Linked DNA regions of Homo sapiens: region 1 is linked to region 2. Evidence: fine-mapped expression QTL. A gene starts in region 2. The other region holds a variant in brackets. All regions are shown on one strand. Distances are between the middles of the regions.

Evidence for each region. PIP is the estimated chance that this variant, and not a neighbour inherited with it, causes the effect.
Region 1: its variant is fine-mapped to the expression of MVB12A in whole blood (INTERVAL, PIP above 0.99).

What each region holds. Positions count from the first base shown.
Region 1 is chr19:17,396,332-17,401,547 of GRCh38, forward strand. No RefSeq gene overlaps it. Among named protein-coding and RNA genes, the nearest start is that of CCDC194, 4.7 kb to the left of the region's middle. RefSeq lists a cis regulatory region at 2,645-3,209. The variant G/A (reference allele first, on the strand shown) is at 1,992.
Region 2 is chr19:17,417,519-17,422,918 of GRCh38, forward strand. It overlaps MVB12A (multivesicular body subunit 12A), which reads left to right and starts at 2,529. Exons shown (of 9, transcript NM_138401.4): 1 at 2,529-2,707; 2 at 2,795-2,893; 3 at 3,020-3,116; 4 at 4,814-4,940. The coding sequence starts at 2,618. It also overlaps the pseudogene HMGB3P29. RefSeq lists an enhancer at 2,066-2,115 and silencers at 2,276-2,485, 2,626-2,855.

The DNA.
Region 1 (5,216 bases), 21 kb before region 2:
CACTGCACTCCAGCCTGGGCAACAGAGTGAGACCATGTCTCAAAAAACAAAAAAAAGTCTATTCAGGTATGTTGATAGACTTTAGTCTTTCTGCCTGTGATATGAGTTCAGTTAATGAAAACTCAAAGAATCAGAAGTAATTGTTTTCTTTTTTGGTGGGTCCAGAATTTAGGCGTGTAAAAAATAAAATAAAATTTTAGGACCTTCCAGATTTATTATGTCAAGGGGTAATAGTTAAGCCCTGGAAACTGAATCAACCTTTCTTTCTTTTCTTGTATTCATTCATTCATTCTTTCTTTCTTTCTTTCTTTTTTTTTTTTTTTTTTGAGATGGAGTCTTGCTCTGTCGCCCAGGCTGGAATGCAATGTTGGCTCACTGCAACCTCTGCCTCCTGGGTTCAAGCAATTCTCCTGCCTCAGCCTCCTGAGTAGCTGGGATTGCAGGCACCTGCCACCACTCCTAGCTAATTTTTTTTTTTTTTGAGATGGCGTCTTGCTCTGTTGCCAAGGCTGGAGTGCAATGTCACGATCTCAGCCCACTGCAACCTCTGCCTTCCAGGTTCAAGAGATTCTCCTGCCTCAGCCTCCCAAGTAGCTGGGATTACAGGCACCTGCCAACACACCTAGCTAACTTTTATATTTTTAGTAGAGATGGGATTTCACTATGTTGGCCAGGCTGTCTCGAACTCATGGCCCCAAGTGATCTGCCCACCTCGGCCTCCCAAAGTGCTGGGATTACAGGGGTGAGCCACCACGCCTGGCCTCTTTATTTTTTCTTTTCTTTTTTTTTTGAGACCAGGTCTCACTCTGTCACCCAGGCTGGAGTACAGTGGTGCCATCACGGCTCACTGCAGCCTTGACCTCCTGGGCTCAAGCGATGCCCCCACCTGGGCCTCCAGCGATGCCCCAACTTGGGCCTCCCTGAATGCTGGGATTACCACCACTGTGAGCACCGAGCCACCCCATTCCCAACCCCTGGCCTTTCTTGTGTGGAGATATCCCACATTAACTAGACTTCCTAGTCTTCATTCAAGCATAGACTAAATGTTGTTGGAGATAGAGACCCTTGTGACTGTCACCTCTTTACAACAGAATGTGTAAGCAACCCCCTTAGGACATAGTCAATAGTAGCCAATCTAATCTCCTATCTGTATTCTAGCCTTTGCATGGGAAATGTATTTCTGTTCAGCACCTCTGTTTGTGGCTTTATAAAGGATCCAGGCCAGGCGAGCTGGCTCATGCCTGTAATCCCAGCACTTTGGGAGGCCGAGGCGGGCGAATCACGAGGCCAGGAGTTCGAGGCCAGCCTGACCCACATGTCGAAACCCTGTCTCTACCAAAAATACAAAAATTAGCCGGGCGTGATGGCGGGCACCTGTAATCCCAGCTACTCGGGAGACTGAGACGGAGAATCGCTTGAACCCGGGAGGCAGAGGTTGCAGCGAGTCGAGATCATGCCATTGCACTCCAGCCTGGGTGACAAGAGCAAGACTCCATCTCAAACAAACAAACAAACAAACAATCCACACTTTTCCCTGAATGAGAGGCACTCATCCTCATTCTTTGGTGTCCCTGTGGCCCTGGATAGACTCTGCCCTCACACTTTGCCCTGGAAAAAACTCTTTTAACCAGGCTTGGCATGGTGGCTCACATCTGTAACCCAAGCACTTTGGGAGACTGAGGTGGGAGGATCACTTGAGCCCAGGAGTTTGAGATCAGCCTGGGCAAAATGGTGAGACCCCATCTCTACAAAATATAAAAAAAATTAGGGCCGGGCATGGTGGCTCATGCCTGTAATCCCAGAACTTTGGGAGGCCGAGGCAGGTGGATCACCTGAGGTCAGGAGTTTGTGACCAGCCTGGCCAACGGGTGAAACCCCATCTTAACTAAAAATACAAAAATTGGCCAGCGCAATGGCTCATGCCTGTAATCCCAGCACTTTGGGAGGCCAAGGAGGGTGGATCACGACATCAAGAGTTTGAGACCAGCCTG[G/A]CAAACATGGTGAAACCCCATCTCTACTAAAAATACAAAAATTAGCTGTGTGTGGTGGCGGGTATCTGTAGTCCCAGCTACTCGGGAGGCTGAGCTGAGATCGTGCCACTGCACACCAGCCTGGGCGACAAAGCGAGACTCTGTCTCAAAAAGAAAAAAAAAATTTAGCCAGGCATGGTGGTGGGTATCTGTAATCCCAGCTACTCGGGAGGCTGAGGCAAGAGAATTGCTTGAACCCAAGAAGGGGAGGTTGCAGTGAGCCGAGATCATGCCATTGCACTCTAACCTGGGTGACAAGAGTGAAACTCTGTCTAAAAAAAAAAAAAAAGAAAAAGAAATGAGCTGTGTCTGGACGTGTGGACGTGGCTCACTCACGCTTGTAATCCTGGCACTTTGGGAGGCCAAGGCAGGAGGATTACTTAAGGCCAAGCATTCAAGATCAACCTGGCCAACATAGTGAGATCCTGTCTTTATTATTTAAAAAAAAAAAAAATTTGCTGGGCATGGTGGTGCATACCTGTGGTCCCAGCTACTCAAGAGGCTGAGGTGTGAGGATTGCTGGAGCCCAGGGGATTGAGGCTGCAGTGATCCAAGGTCGCACCACTGCACTTAAGCCTGGGTGACAGAGAGAGGCCCTGTCTCAAAAAAAAAAAAAGAAAGAAATCAGAGCTCAGAGAGGTCGAGTCCCAGAGCAGGGACACTCAGCAGTGGCTGGTCACTGCCAAATTCCCACTGGGGACTGCAGAACCCCACAGCCGTCAGCTTCTCAACCCCTGGGTGGGTCACAGCCTTGGAGTCAGGTCTCTCAGGAAAAGGACAAAATAGGGAGGGAAGATGGGACATTTTAGGAAGTAGGGAAATTTACACCCAGGCCATTGTGTGGGGGGATTGGGAGTTGAATCCACAATATTGGGCTAATCTTATCAGCAAAATACAGCCCAGGCAGGATGGGGGTGGGGGTTGTGGGGGGAGAGTGGGGGAGGGAGTGTGAGTAGGGGTGGGGGTGGGTGGAGCAGCAGCATAGTCTGGGGACCTTTCCATGGCCCAAGTCGGGAGTGGTGAGTGGAGGAGGTCACGTGGGGAGCGTTTGTTTCCTGGGCAAAAGGAAATCCACAGAATGTGGAGGGTTAATTGCCCAACGAGCTTTGAAACCCTGAACAAGGCCAGGCATGGTGGCTCACGCCTGTAATCCCAGCACTTTGGGAGGCTGAGGCGGGCGGATCACGAGGTCAGGAGATCAAGACCATCCTGGCTAACACGGTGACACCCCGTCTCTACTAAAAATACAAAAAAAATTAGCCCAGCGTGGTGGTGGGCGCCTGTAGTCCCAGCTACTTGGGAGGCTGAGGCAGGAGAATCACTTGAATCCAGGAGGTGGAGGTTGCAATGAGCTGAGATCGCACCATTGCACTCCAGCCTGGGCAACAGAGCAAGACTCCATCTCAAAAAACAAACAAACCAACCACAAAAAAAACAAAAACCCCTGAAAAAGTCCAGTAATTACCCTAGGCCTCACCGGGGCTGTTGGTGAGGATGAAATAGCTTAGTAGTTGCAAAGCGGCTTTGGCTTTTTTGCAAGCCAGGGCCACAGAAGTGAAGGCCCACCCTGCTCCCGGGGACACTTAGCAACATATAGAGACTTTTTTTTTCTTTTGAGACAGAGTCTGGCTCTGTTGCCCAGGCTGGAGTTGCATCATCTTGGCTCACTGCAGCCTTGACATCCCAGGCTCAAGCGATCCTCCTGCCTCAGCCTCCCAAGTAGCTGCGACTACAGGCGTGTGCCACCATGCCCAGCTAATTATTAAATTTTTTGTAGAGATGGAGGTCTCCCTATGTTGCCCAGGCTGGTCTTGACCTCCTGGGCTGAAGCAATCCTCCCCCTTCGACCTCCCAAAGTGCTGGGATTACAGGCATGAGCCACCATGCCCAGCCTGGAAACATTTTTAATTGTCACAACTTGGGAGGGTGTTACTTGCATTTATGGGTGGGGGCCAGGGATGCCGTTTAATATCCTACAATGCAGCTGGGCGCCGTGTCTCATGTCTGTAATTCCAGCACTTTGGGAGGCCGAGGCGGGTGGATTTCTTCAGGTCAGGAGTTCAAGACCAGCCTGAACAACATGGTGAAACACCGTTTCTACTAAAAATACAAAAATTAGCCGGACATGATGGCGGGTGCCTGTAATCCCAGCTACTCGGGAGGCTGAGGCAGGATAATCACTTGAACCCGGGAGACGGAGTTTGCAGTGAGCTGAAATCGCACCACTGCACTCCAGCCTGGGAGACAGAGTGAGACTCCATCTCAAAAAAACAAACAAAAAAAACCCAAAACAAAAAACAAAATCCTACAATGCACAGGATGGTCCCCACCCAGAGAACCATCCAGCCCAAACCACCAATGCTGCTGAGGCTGAGACCCTGCCCTAGACCTTGGGAGTGAGGAACGGGTGCTCCAGGCAGCAGGCAGAGCTTGGGCAAAGGCCTTGAGGCAAAAAGGAACTTGGGATCAGTAAAGGTGGAGGTGGTGAGCAAGGGGAAGTGAGGGGGCAAGAGGGCCAGGGGGTCTGTGGCAGGGGAGGTATTTGGGGACCCTTCCCTGGGACAGCAGTAGGAACCATGGAAGTGGAGGCCTGGTTTTATTTATTTATTTATTTTTGAGACAGACTCTTGCTCTGTCGCCCAGGCTAGAGTGCAGTAGCGTGATCTCAGCTCACTGCAACCTCCACCTCCTGGGTTCAAGCGATTTTCCTGCCTCAGCCTCCTGTGTAGCTGGGACTATAGGCACGACCCACCACCCCCCGCTAATTTTTTTTATTTTGAGACAGAGTCTCGCTCTATTGCCCAGGCAGGAGTGCAGTGGCGGGATCTCGGCTCACTGCAACATCCGCCTCTCGGGTTCAAGCGATTCTCGTGCCTCAGCCTCCTGAGTAACTGGGACTACAGGTGCATGCCACCACGCCAGGCTAATTTTTTGTATTTTTAGTAGAGACAGGGTTTCACCGTGTTCGCCAGGATGGTCTGGATCTCTTGACCTTGTGATCCAACAACCTTGGCCTCCCAAAGTGCTGGGATTACAGGCATGAACCACCACGCCCAGCCATTTTTTTGTATTTTTAGTAGAGATGGGGTTCACCATGTTGGCCAGGTTGGTCTTGAACTGAGCTCAAGTGATCCACCTGCCTCGGCCTCCCAAAGTTCTGGGATTACAGGCGTGAGCCACTGTGCC
Region 2 (5,400 bases):
TAGCTTGAACCTGGGAGGCGGGGCTTGCAGTGAGCCGAGATTGCGCCACTGCACTCCAGCCTGGGCAACAGAGCGAGACTCCGTCTCAAAAAAATAAATAAATAAATAAATAAATTTTAAAAAATAAAATAAATAAATTAAATAAAATAAAAAATAAGAGTCCAGACGGTGGCCTTTTGGGGACATTAGGCTCTTTCTTCTTGCTTCCCCTTTAGCTGCTCTATAATCCTTCATTTCCCGATCCTAGTGTACTTTATCCGCCTTTGCCATTTCATCAAATTTGGACTTCTCTTTCACTGACACTGTCTTCCAACTCTCAGAATATTTCTTGGAAAATTCTGCAAAATTGACAGGGACCTCTGGGTTTTTCTTCTTCTTCTTCCTTTTTTTTTTTTTGAGATGGAGTTTCACTCTGTCGCCCAGGCTGGAGTGCAGTGGCACGATCTCCGCTCACTGCAACTTTCTCCTCCCAGGTTCAAGCGATTCTCCTGCCTCAGGCTCCCGAGTAGCTGGGACTATAGGCGCCTGCCACCATGCCCAGATAATTTTTGTATTTTTAGTAGAGACGGGGTTTCACCATGTTGGCCAGGATGGTCTCAATTTATTGACCTCATGATCCGCCTGCCTTGGCCTCCCAAAGTGCTGGGATTACAGGCGTGAGTCACTGTGCCAGGCCGGTTTTTCTTCTTATGTTCTTCTCTGTACATCTGCACAAAAAAACTATAAGCAGACATTTTGCCCTTTGGTTTCTTGGGGTCACCATTAGCCATCCTGACTGTATTGTTTGCTAGTCTGGGCAGCGCAGGACACTTGTTCGCTATTTTTCTAAACTTTTCCCCCAATGGGTGTAAAAAAGCATATTATTATTATTATTATTATTATTATTATTATTGAGACGAGTTTCGCTCTTGTTGCCTAAGCTGGAGTGCAATGGCGCGATCTCAGCTCATTGCAACCTCCACCTCCCGGGTTCCAGTGATTCTCCTGCCTCAGCCCCCTTAGTAGCTGGGATTCCAGACGCGCACCACCACGCCTGGATAGTTTTTTGTACTTTTAGTAGAAACGGGGTTTCACCATGTTAGGCTGGTCTCAAACTCCTGACCTCAGATGATCCGCCCGCCTCGGCCTCCCAAAGTGCTGGGATTACAGGTGTGAACCACTGTGCCCGGCTTAAAAGCATATTATTATAGTAAATACTTTTTTTCCCTTTCTTTCTTTCATTTTAAACACTGGGGTCTCCTTATGTTGTCCAGGCTAGATTCAAACTCCTGGACTCAAGCGATCCTCCCACCTCAGCCTCCCTGTTACCCTGTTGCCATGACAGCCCTGATAAAATAACTGGGAAAGTTCTCTTTCTTATTGTAAGTCCAAAAAAAAAAAAAAAAAAGGCACAGCTGCTTAAAGATTGCAGACAGCCAGGGATGTCCCCAGACCTTCTTGACCCCTGACCAGATACCAGAGGAAGATAAGATCCCTAAATCACCACAAACTGGAACAGACGACCTCTAGTCGACTTTAGATCATCAATATATAATTATAATGCTAAAATTCCTTCTCTTAAAAGAAAATCTCCATTTTGTGTAGATGGGTTGTATGAAGACAACCCAGGAATTGAGGCTCATGAATTGAGCCTGCGTGTCTGGAGTCCCACCCTGCACATGCTAGCATTCCTCTCCCTTCCTGTACCCAGGGGAAGAAACAATAAAACGTTATGCTTTTTACTGTTGAGGGAGAAGGGGCAGTTAGAGTGAGAGCCTCTCCTTCTCCATTCCTGGCCAGTGAATAAAACCTGATTGCCTTTTCCGATTGGATGTTCCTTCTTTGCCACCTACACAAAGTGGGGAGGTAACTCGGTTTGCTGGTGGCATCCTCAGTAGCTGGGACTACAGGCAATAAATTCTTTTATACGTCGCTTTTTAAACGTATTGTGCCTGTGAACAAATCTTCAAGTTATACCCAAGATTTCAAAGCTCATGATGGTCCATAGTACTCGCTCTTTAAATCAATAGCTGCGTATCCCACAGATGATTTCCTTTGGGATGATTTCCCAGAACTGGAATTGCAGATTCTTCACAATGCATTTTTAGTAGAGAAGGGGTTTCACCACGTTGGCCAGGAGGGTCTCGATCTCTTGACCTCATGATCCGCCCGCCTCCGCCTCCCAAAGTGCCGGGATTACAGGCGTCAGCCACTGCGCGCGGCCACAAAGCTCCCAACTTTTCCGTTAAGCACCGAGCTTTTTTCTAGACTAGCAGCTGAGGCCGGAAGGAATTCTGGGGAACGTAGTGCAGACTTGCAGAGAACGAGTCTCTTGGTCCTGTGCCGTAGCATTTCCGGCGGAAGTTGCTGGGCGCGGAAAGCCGGCAAGACCTTTTTTTCCGCCATCATCGCTCACGCGCGCAACCCTGGCGACGCGTGGTGGCGAGGCTCCGCCTCCCCACGCCATTGGCCAGCAGCTCCTCGGGCACGCGTATACTGCGCTTCCGGGCAATCTCCGCCCCCCCCCCCCGCATGGCCTTCTGGGAGTTGTAGTTCGGTCGCGAGCGCTGCCGTCGGGAGGCGCTCCGAGGTTCGAGGCTGTGCCCCGCGACCCCGCCTTCGGCGCTCGGCTCGCAGGATGGATCCCGTACCCGGGACAGACTCGGCGCCGCTGGCTGGCCTGGCCTGGTCGTCGGCCTCTGCACCCCCGCCGCGGGGGTTCAGCGCGGTGAGCGGCGTCGAGGGGCGGGGGTCGAATGGGGGAGGCAGTCGCTGTGGGGTGGGAGTCCGGCGCTGACCCGCGTCCTCCCGGTAGATCTCCTGCACCGTCGAGGGGGCACCCGCCAGCTTTGGCAAGAGCTTCGCGCAGAAATCTGGCTACTTCCTGTGCCTTAGTTCTCTGGGCAGCCTAGAGGTAAGAGGTGCCCACCTTCGGAACCACCAGGGTCTGCCCACCTCCCCTGCCCATTCACGGTGCCCTATGCCAGGTGCGCTGTCCCCGCTGCTAGCCACCCTCGCCGTGTCCCCCTTCCACCCCCAGAACCCGCAGGAGAACGTGGTGGCCGATATCCAGATCGTGGTGGACAAGAGCCCCCTGCCGCTGGGCTTCTCCCCCGTCTGCGACCCCATGGATTCCAGTAAGGGCTGCTTCGGAGGCGAGAGTTGTCCGGGTCCCTTGCAGGGAGGAGCGGGGGAGGAGGGACGACGGGCGCGCGGTATCTGAGCCTCGGCTGCCCCCTGGCACACGGGGTGATGACAGGGTTGGCTGAGGACTCAGAGCCCTGCCCTAGGGTGGACCGACATCCCCTGTCCTGATTCAAAATGTGTGATATGATTGGCACAGCCTGCATCCTCGAGTTAAGTGTTCAGTCCACGCCACCTGTTTCACTACTGTTGTGCTACTTGTGTCTTTTTACACCATAGCCAAGCAAAACCACTGCGCAGTTTTCTTTTTCATTTCCAGGCTTTGCACACGCCGCTTCCTCTGCCTGGGGCACTTTTTCTCTCCTTTTTGTAGCTCATTCTCCGTCCTCCGTCAGATGTCACCTTCACCCTTCCCTACCCCTCCTCTTCTGGGCCCACAACCCTAGTGCAGCCCTCCCAGCCCCACCTGAACTTTCCCACCCTTTCTTGTCATTTTTATTTGACTCAGGCTATATTCATTCATACTAGAGTTGGCAAACCTTTTTTTTTTTTTTTTTCTTCAGACGGAGTTTCGCTCTTGTTGCCCAGGCTGGAGTGCAATGGCGCGATCTCAGCTCACCACAACCTCCGACTCCCGGGTTCAAGCGATTCTCCTGCCTCATCCTCCAGAGTAGCTGGGATTACAGGCATGCGCCACCACGCCTGGCTAATTTTGTATTTTTAGTAGAGACGGGGTTTCTCCATGTTGGTCAGGCTGGTTTCGAACTCGTGACCTCAGGTGATCCACCTGCCTGGGCCTCCCAAAGTGCTGGGATTACAGGCGTGAGCCACCGCACCCGGCCAAACTTTTTTTCTTTATTTTTTCTTAGAGTTGGCAAACTTTTATGTAAAGGGCCTTATAGTAAATATTTTAGGCTTTACAGGGCAGATGATGTGTTTTGCATATTCAATTTTTTTACAATTCCTTAAAAATGTAAAAATCACTCTTAACACATCAGCTGTATGAAACCAGGCCTTAGGCTTGGTGTGGTGGTTCACACCTGTAATCCCAGCACTTTGGGAGCCTGAGGCGGGCAGATCACCTGAGGTCAGGAGTTCCAGACCAGCCTGGCCAACATGGTGAAACCCTGTCTCTACTAAAAATACAAAATTAGCTGGGCATGGTGGTGGGCGCCTGTAGTCCCAGCTACTTGGGAGGCTGAGGCAAGAGAATTGTTTGAACCTGGGAGGCGGAGGTTGGAGTGAGCTGAGATTGCGCCATTGCACTCCAGCCTGGGCGACAGAGTGAGACTCTGTCTCAAAAAGAAAAGAAAAGAAAACAGACCTTGAGCCAGATTTGGCTCATGGGTGCTAGTTGTCCAACCTCTATAGGATTAGAGGGCTCATGGAAAGTAAGTTTTGAGGGCCACGATGGGCACCCAGCTCTGTCCGATTCCACAGCTAGCCACCCCATGAATGCAGCTTCATATCACCAAAGATCAGCCTACTCCAGCGGTTCCTAAAGGCTGCATGGAATCCCCTCCTTCATCTATACCATTCATGATTTAACCACTCCTCCCACCCCCATCCCCAATGTTGTCCATGTGGCTGCCTTAAACAGCACCCTGGCGAGCCTCATCCTAGAGTCATCTTTGGGCCTTCCCACCCCTGCCTGGCTTCCCTCTCTCACTCCCCTACCCCCCACTCCCAGAGGCCTCTGTGTCCAAGAAGAAACGCATGTGTGTGAAGCTGTTGCCCCTGGGAGCCACGGACACGGCTGTGTTTGATGTCCGGCTGAGTGGGAAGACCAAGACAGTGCCTGGATACCTTCGAATAGGGTAGGGCCACCCCCCAGTGTCTAGCCACCTTCCCTGCCCTCCCAACTCATGATCTCACCAATCTGACCCTCAAGGACACCCCTGAGGTCTCCTGTTCCTTCTTCTACCTTCTGAGCCTCAGATTCTGCATGTTAAAACCGGGACATATATATCATCTTGTAGGACTGTCATTAGGAGTCAGTGACTTGGTGTCTAAAGTAGACATAACAGGACTGGGCGCGGTGGCTCACGCCTGTAATCCCAGCACTTTGGGAGGCTGAGGCGGGCCGATCACAAGGTCAGGAGATCGAGACCATCCTGACTAACATGTTGAAACCCCATCTCTACTGAAAATACAAAAAATTAGCCGGGTATGGTGGCACACGCCTGTAGTCCCAGCTACTTGGGAGGCTGAGGCAGGAAAATCACTTGAACCTGGAAGGCGGAGGTTGCAGTGAGTTGAGATCGCGCCACTGCACTC